3 separate regions of the Homo sapiens genome follow, and regions 1 and 3 are each linked to region 2. Evidence: fine-mapped expression QTL. A gene starts in region 2. Each other region holds a variant in brackets. All regions are shown on one strand. Distances are from middle to middle. Region 1 overlaps LINC02987 (long intergenic non-protein coding RNA 2987). Region 2 holds the start of LINC00662 (long intergenic non-protein coding RNA 662). Region 3 overlaps LINC02987 (long intergenic non-protein coding RNA 2987).

Region 1 (2,762 bases), 52 kb before region 2:
TAAAAGCTGAGAGAACCAGTGCACTCTTGCAAAGGGTGGAATGTCGCAAAAGTCCACCAAGAGTTTTCACTAGGACTTTCCTGGGCCTGCCTTGGAGCATGACAAGATGATGAGGGAATTCTTAACAGGACCATTTAAGATTAAATAAGTTTAATTGGGGGTCTGAAAAAACTCCCTGTTAGGGTCACCCCGACCAGACCCTTCCCCTCCCACAGGCCTCACAATACACTCCCTTGTGCTCTCCACACAGCTACCCCAGGGCAAAAGACAAACCCCTGCCTTCACTGAGCCCTCCAGTATCTGTTTGTCCAGACAGTTATAGGATGCGGTTAACATATCTCTTAACCTCGCATAACAAAGCTGGCAAAAAACATCTCCAGGATGCAGTTGAGACACCTGCATCCCCAACTCAGCTCCTCTACTGGGACCCAGTTCTCCTGCCCCGACTCAGCTCCCCGACCCTGACCTGGTTCTGGCCCTGTAAAACCCTGCTATAGTCTGTAAGTGGGGCTGCCTCCTCTAACTGTGATGGAGCAGCCAAGCAGCTCAATAAAGCTTGCTTGTCTGACTTTGGGTCTCCTCATCCTTTCTCTCAGCTGACCTTACATTTCTGGTGCTGAAACTCAGGAAGGTGGTAGAGTTTGGCCTCCCTTTCTCCCTTTCTCCTTCCCTCCATTCTTCCCCCGGCCGAACTACCCCTTCCAGAACCTGCTAGAGACCCAAGGATCTCATACAGCCTTTCCATCGCTTGGTGAACACATCCGACACCAGGACCACCTCAGGGGTGAGTAAAGGAGACTTTTGCCTTCGGTCTGGAACCCTTGTCTACTCTTTCCTTCCTGAAAGACCTAGCACTGGGCCAAGGGTTTCCTCCTCCCGGCCTCTAGGCCCTTGGTATCTCCCTTTCGGGGATGCCTGAACGGAGGATTATCGCACTTCTCCGACTTGAACCGTGGGACAAGGGATGCCTTCTCCCACCATTCTAGCCAAGTCTCCTGTCTCTACCCCTCCCTTTCTCATTTCACTAAGGGAGCCTCCCAATCCACTCCCTCAAAGACATCCCCCCCCCGCCCCTTGGGTATCTCCTCTGTAACATTAATGCCCTTATCCTCC[A/G]TTCCAAAATTTGGCCAAAAAAACCTCATCTTTTATTGTAACACTCCCTGGCCAAAATATAAACTAGACAATGGCTCCCAATGGCCTGAAAATGGCACTTTCAATTTCAACATTCTCAGGGACCTAGACAACTTCTGCCATCGCAATGGAAAGTGGTCAGAGATCCCTTATGTTCAGGCTTTTTTTTGCCCTCTGTAGCCGTCCCTCCCTCTGTCAGTCCTGCTCTACTTTCCAAATCCTCCTCGCCTGCTCCAAACCCGACCCATCCTCAAACACCCCCCTCCACCACTCCTAGTGACAATTCCTCCTTCTTTGACCCTGCCAACTTTCCTTCTCTCTGACAACACCATAATCCTCCCCCAAATCATCACAATCCTCCACCATATGCTCCCGCTCCTGCCTTACCTCTTTCCCCTCCTCTCTCCTAACCACCCAACTTCTGATTCTGATTGCTCCCCATCTCCACTTCATACCTGCTCTCGGACTCAGCATGCCCAACAGTCGGCCCCCTTACTTCCCCTCCGAGAGGTGGCTGAGGCTAAAGGATTCGTTCACATCCACATTCCCTTCTCCCTCTCCAACCTTTCCCAAATTAAGAACGGTCTCAGGTCCTTTTCCTCCAATCCTGACACTTACATCAAAAAGTTCAAATACCTCACTCAATCTTATAAACCCACTTGGCATGATCTCTATATTATCCTTTCTTCTACTTTCCTCCCAGAAAAACAAAGAAAAGAGTGCAGCTTGCAGCTCAGGCACATGCTGACGATCTTCATTGGCAAGACCCTCCTAAGCCCATAAAGGCTGCTGCATTTCCCCGGGAAAAATCCTCCTGGGAGTACCAACCCACAGAGCCCGGCTGGCATCTCATAACCACATGATCACTTCCTTATTGCAGGCCTTAACGAAGCTGCCCACAAGGCCGTAAACTTTAAAAAACTCAAAAAAAAAAATCTCCCAAAGGGCCAATGAAAATCTTGCCAAATTTCTTTCCCGCTTTACAGAGGCCCTCCAAAAATACACCAGTGTTGACCCCACCTCCCAGGAAGGAACTATTGTTCTTAATACCCATTTCATCTCTCAGTCTGCTCCTGACATACAGCGCAAGCTCAAAAAGGTAGAAGATGGCCATCAAAACCCTCTACAAGACCTTCTTATCCTGGCCTTCAAGGTTTTCAACAACAGAGATGGGCAAAATAAATTAAATAAAGCCCAACAAGATCAGGCTAAATACCAGCTCCTAGCAGCAGCTATCTACCCAGGCTGCCCAGAGGCTCAAAAGACCCAATAGCAGTGACCCTCCTGGGCCCTGTTTTAAGTGTGGCAAAGAAGGCCATTAGGCCTGAACATGCCCTAACCCACGAATACCAAAAACTCCTTGCCCAGCCTGCCAACAAACCAGTCAATGGAAGTCTGATTGTCCTCTTAACAAGTAGACTAACAGGCCGGTTCCTCAAAGCCCTGGCAAATCAAAGAGTGAAGAGTCACTCACACTCCCACACCTCCTTGGCCTGGCTGCTGGAGACTGACAGAGCCCAGGGCCCCCGGCCCCATCTGCCGTCACTGCATTGGAGCCCAGGGTAACTCTGCTAATAGCAGGTAAACCGATCTCTTTTTTAATCAACAGTGGAGCCACCTAATCGGCTTTA
Region 2 (2,762 bases):
AGACCCTCTCCAAGGGGGGATGGGCTGGCCCTCCCAGGACCACCAACCCACTTCCAGAAGCCCATGGGTCATCCCCACCTTCACCTGACTGGGCTGTCCCTGACGCTAAGGCCCAGCAGCACGAAGGGGATTCCACACAAATCAGGGCAGTAGGCTGCTCTCTGGCGGCACTGGGGGCTTAGGGTCTGGCCAGCCTGTCCCTGGCTCAGGACACATGCCTGGAAATTAGGGTTTTCTCCTCTGCTCTTAGCATCTCCTGGGTAAACCAATAATTACTCTCCCTCATGTCTCAAAATTCACATCTATCTAAAAGGCGCTAGTGAGGGTGACATTTCCAGGAAGCCATAGCCCATGTCACCCCCTGCAAAGCTGTGACCTTTTCCGCGGGCAGGCCAGGCGGCGGAGTTCTCCCAAAAGCGGATGAACTGGCACTCTGGCTGGAGAAAGCAGAGAGCAGCAGCACAATGGACAGCGTCTGGGACCTCAGGCCGATTCCACAGCAGCTTAGGAAAGCAGGAGGCCCCCTGGGCGGGAGGAGGCTTGATGCTCTGGAGGGAAACGGAACTGAGCAGCGGGAGGTGGGGTGAGCCTGAGACCCGACCGATTTTGGCAAAGGCGAGGCGCACTTTGCAGTATCATACTCTCCTCACTGCCCAGCCCAGACCTGCCCTTCAAGTCCCTCTATGGACTCACTCCCCTTAGCCAGGGGTGGCACAGATTCAGTAGCCAGCATGGGTTTGGAAACAGAGGTCAACACCGCCCTGCCCCTCCCTGCGGGGCTGCGCAACACCCTTGAACCCTGCGCATGCTGAGACTGTAGTCCCATAGCCCTGCGACCAACGGCCGGAAGCAGCTAAGACACTATTACCAGCATGCCCGGCAGGAGGGCACCGCGCTGCCCCCCCCCCTCAAGGGACCAGCATCATCCCCACTCCCGTAGCATACTGGGATTGTAGTCCCGCAGCTCTGCCACCAACAGCCAGAAGCAGTTAAAAAACTGTTCCTCTCAGCATGCCCTGCAAGGCGCGCACCGCTGCTGTACCTCCCTTAACGTATCCGTAACCTCCCTCAACGTATCCGTACCTCCCTCAACGTATCCATACCTCCCTCAAGGTATCCGTACCTTCCTCAAGCTATCCGCACCACCCTCTCTTCCATTTCATGCGAAGATTGTAGTCCCGCAGCCCTGCGACCAGCGGCCGGAAGCAGCTAAGATGCTACTGCTCCCAGCATGCCCCGCGAGGCGCGCACAGCACAGGCCCTCTCTCAAGGTCACCACCTCCACTCCCGTTGTATGCTGGGATTGTAGTCCGGCCGCCCTGTGACTAACGGCTGGAACCGCCTAAGACACCACCCCAGCCAGCATGGCCGGCAGGAGCGCACCGCGCTGTCTCCCTCCAGGGATCCGCACCGCCCTACAATCCTGCTTTGTGCTGAGATTGTAGTCCTGCAGGCGTACAACTAACAAGCTGGGTGCAGATAAGAGACTACAGCTCCCCGCATCCCAAGCAAAGGTCCCTCCTCTACGGAGCCCCTCCACGCGTCCACTGCGGTTCCGCCGTGCCAAGGGGAGCTTGGCTGTTCACGGGCCTCACCTGCTAGCGAGAAGATAGCTTGGCCGGGCGGCTGATCTCACCTTGTAATTCTGACACTGTGTCTCCCGGGCTTGTCGGCTTCATGACTTGTGCCCAAAGTTTGATTTCTCGCAGACCAGGTAAAAGCCAAGAGGCTCTCATAGGCGCCTTGGCAGAGTTGCCATTGGAACGGGCGTCCTCTAGTAGCTGGGATCTCCCCGCCCCTTCCTCCTGAGGGGCCACTCCTTTCTGCCCCACCCTTCTTATTGCCCCACCCTTTGCCACACTCCTTCAGAGATGCGCAGTGCTGCCCCTTTCTATGGGCAGGGCCGAAGGTCCGCGTGTAAAAGTACCCAGTCCCTGGTAACCTGACACTTCCCTTTTAAAAGCCACCTTTTGTCTATCTCTGGCCTGCCACGATTCTTCCTGTGCTCCATAGGAGGACCCATTGGACCCCCGGGCTGGCTGCAGGGCCCACACCTGGGTTAGACCTCGCACAGGGACGCTGCTGCCACTGTAATAAAGCGTGCCTACACGCTTCTGAAACTGGTGTAGGAACAACCTCAGTTCTGTGAAAGGCGGACGCAGCAGGACAGAATCTCCGTGGACATCTGTCTGGAGGAGCAATTTTACTGCGACATTTTAAAGAAACAAATTTAATTGATTTCCAAGGTAAGAAATTAAACCTTGAAAACTAAACTGAAAAGTCATCTGTGTTTGACAAGTCAGACTTTCTCCAAGAAGAAAACTAAGGAGTGCATATTTTCCATTATTATAAATAGTGAAAATGAGAAATCATAGCAACTCCCTGGAAAATCTTGCTCTGCCAGTTTTCTAAATCACAGTAGGGCCTCGATATGGTTTTATTTGTTTTTGTTTTTGTTTTGGAGTGTGTTCACCTTTTGAATATAAGAATTTGCGGTTTTGACCAAGTTTTTAAATTTTCAGCTATTGTTTATTTGTTTTTGTATTATATTTAATTTTTCTGTCTCTCCCTCTCTGTCTCAGACTCAATCATTTCACAGGTCTCTTAGGCCTCTTTTCATTTTCTTTAAACTTGTTTCAGTCTTCAGATTGGATGGTTTATATTGCTGTCTTCTGTTTCTACTCTGTAAACTAAAAGTTCTTTTTATTTTATTATTTTATTGTCTTCTATTTTACTCTTTTTATAATTTCCATGTCTCTGCT
Region 3 (2,762 bases), 29 kb before region 2:
TATGGACCATTATATCTACCCAGTCAACTTTCCTGGGTCAAACTGTGGATACCCAAATGTTTTTGAGAATATTTTTCTCTTATGTTAGTTTTTAGTCAATGATACGTTGTATCATGTTCAATTTTAATCATCAGTTTTCTTTTTTGTGCATTATCTTCACAGTAATATGGATCATGGACATTGAAGTATCCTCAGGGTTAAAAATGTTGGAATCCAAGCATTCTACCTCTTTTATTTGTATGGTTTCAATTATGACTCAGCATTTTAGAAAAATGTTAGCTCTATAATCTTCCACCCTCACCCCTTTAAATAAGAACATACTTTTTTAGACACGCAAGGGTCAGGCAGATACAACTACACAGTGGTTGACATCATTTTTGGGAAGGAACTGAAAACTGGTTTTATACTCAAACATCCTGTTGGGAAACTGTCAAATTAAAAAAATTATGACATTTGTTAAAAATTCGGAAGAAAGACTTTAACACTATTGCAGTAGATGTTATGGCCATTGTAATACGGTTCAGAAATCGATCATAACTCTGAACACAGACAACTCAGGATTTATAATCAATAAGCAAATAAATCAGTGGATAAAAAATTACTGAAATAAATTTGATAAAATACCAAAGGAGGAGGAATTTTTTTTTGTAACAGAATTCTGTTTACAGGCAGGCTAAGGACTTAAATATCAGGGAAGGGGAATGAGGATTTTAGTAGATGTAAAAAATATGTGGATTTTTACTAAGCAATCTTAGCAGCATTTCTGAAAATAAGCTTCTCAGACCAGGAGCAGGGCAACAAGCCAAGGTTGACTAAGTCAAGAAGAGAGTTAAGTTAAGCTTAACTAACCTTTGGTCATAAAAAGAGTGCTTGTCAGAACCAAGACTTTTTCCCATCTGATCTGAAAATAAATAAACACCAAAAGAGGCTTTGCTTGGAAAATAAGTGCCACTTCACCTGAGACAAACTCCATTTTCTCCTTGTTATCTTTGAATTTAGTGCAGAAAAAGAGCACTGGTTATTGCCATAGTTTTTATTTTTCTTTCATTCTTAAAGACAGAGATTCAGTTTTATTCAAACAGCAACTTACCATACACAATGGTTATAGTTCCTGACCCCTATTGAAGCTAATAATGACTAGAAAACATTCAAGACAATTGGGTGTAACCAGAAGTATTGACGGGACTTTGGGGAGACTGTTCAGATGAGGCTGACACAGCTGTGTGAGCCACTTTGACCTTGCATCTTTCCTCCTTCTTGATCTTTGAAATGCACATGGTTGCTGGTGTAGGCTGACGGTCCTACAGCCATCTTGGCCCATGAGACAGCCTACAGGATAAAAACCATCTACTGAAATATTGTAGCAGAAAAGGGTGCCAGGATGGCTGACTAGAAGTAATATGGTGTGTGGCTCTCATGGAAAGGAACAAAGGAGGAGAGTAAATACAACACCTTCAGCTGAAAC[A/T]CCCAGGTATTTGCACTGGGAATAATGAAGGAAACAACTCAACCCATGCAGAATGGAGAAGAGCAGGGCATGGCAACTGCCCACCTAGAAGTGACACAGAGCGAAGGGAATCTACCCTGTCCAGGGAAGTGGTGAGTGAATGTGTGACCCTGTGAAACCACACTTCTCCCATGGATCTTTTTATCCCTCAGGTCAGGAGATTTTCTCATGAACCCATTTCACCAGGGCCTTTGGTCTGACACACAGAGCTGCATGGTCTTGCCAGAGAAACTGCTCAGACAAATAGAATCTCAGAAGCTTTACACACTCCGGCTCCAGGATCTCCAGCAAAGGTGACTGCAACTCGGACAAAACAGGAGGTGGGACCACCATAAAAATCCCAGAAAGGAAGCCTAAACCACAGGGATGAACAACATCAGTCTGTGGGCCCCACATCCATGATGCCTCACCCGATAAGACCCACTGGCTTGGAATTCCAGCCAGCCCCCAGTAACAGTGTTTTACCTACCTGGGATGAGACAAAGTTCTGGAGACAGAGGCAGACTGCCATACTTGCTGTTTGGATGACTCAGCCTTTCCAGCCTGTGGGTTTAGGAGAGTCCAAGCAAAACTGATGGCAGATGAAGGGAAGCCCTGGCACAGCACAGTGGCTCTACCAAAATGTGGCCAGACTGCTTGTTTAAGTGGGACCCTGACACATTTCTCATCTCAGGGTGGGGCCTCCTACTCGGGCCTCCAGCCAGCCCCTTCCATATTCTCCAGCAGACAGAATTTTGCTTTCTCCCTGGATGCAGTGTCCAGTGGGAGAAGTGGGCCACCACATTTGCTGTTTGGACAACTCAGCCATTCCAGCCTGTGGGCTTAGGAGACCCCAAACCATACAGGGGGCAGAAGCAATCCCCCAGCACAGCACAGTGGCTCTACCATGATGTGATCAGACTGCTTCTTTAGGTAGGATCCTGATATGCCCCTTATCTCTGAGTGGGACTTCCCAACCAGGGCCTCCAGCCACTTCCACTGATGTTCTCTGGCCAACAGAAGTTTGAAAACTTTCTGGGACAGAGTTCCTAGAGATAGGGGTGGGCCATCAACTTTGCTGTTTCAGCAACTTAGCTTTTTCAGCCTCCAGGCTTTAGAGAGCACAACCTGATGAGGGGCAGAAGTGGTACCCCAGCATAGCATGGCTGCTCTATGAAAGTGGGGCTAGACTGCTTCTTTAAGTGGGTCCCCAATCCTGTTCCCCCTGGATAGGTGAGACCTCCCAAAAGGGGTCTCCAGTCACCTCCTACAGGTGTGT

The links. PIP is the estimated chance that this variant, and not a neighbour inherited with it, causes the effect.
Region 1: its variant is fine-mapped to the expression of LINC00662 in unexposed skin (GTEx, PIP 0.99).
Region 3: its variant is fine-mapped to the expression of LINC00662 in whole blood (TOPMed, PIP above 0.99).

The regions. Positions count from the first base shown.
Region 1 is chr19:27,844,348-27,847,109 of GRCh38, reverse strand. The region is part of intron 1 of LINC02987 (long intergenic non-protein coding RNA 2987); the gene reads right to left. Among named protein-coding and RNA genes, the nearest start is that of LINC00662, 52 kb to the right of the region's middle. The variant A/G (reference allele first, on the strand shown) is at 1,114.
Region 2 is chr19:27,792,484-27,795,245 of GRCh38, reverse strand. LINC00662 (long intergenic non-protein coding RNA 662) reads left to right here and starts at 1,306. Exons shown (of 3, transcript NR_027301.1): 1 at 1,306-1,714; 2 at 2,014-2,246. LINC02987 (long intergenic non-protein coding RNA 2987) reads right to left here and starts at 1,815. Exons shown (of 7, transcript NR_146733.1): 1 at 1,637-1,815. RefSeq lists an enhancer at 1,094-1,573.
Region 3 is chr19:27,821,826-27,824,587 of GRCh38, reverse strand. The region is part of intron 1 of LINC02987 (long intergenic non-protein coding RNA 2987); the gene reads right to left. Among named protein-coding and RNA genes, the nearest start is that of LINC00662, 29 kb to the right of the region's middle. The variant A/T (reference allele first, on the strand shown) is at 1,466.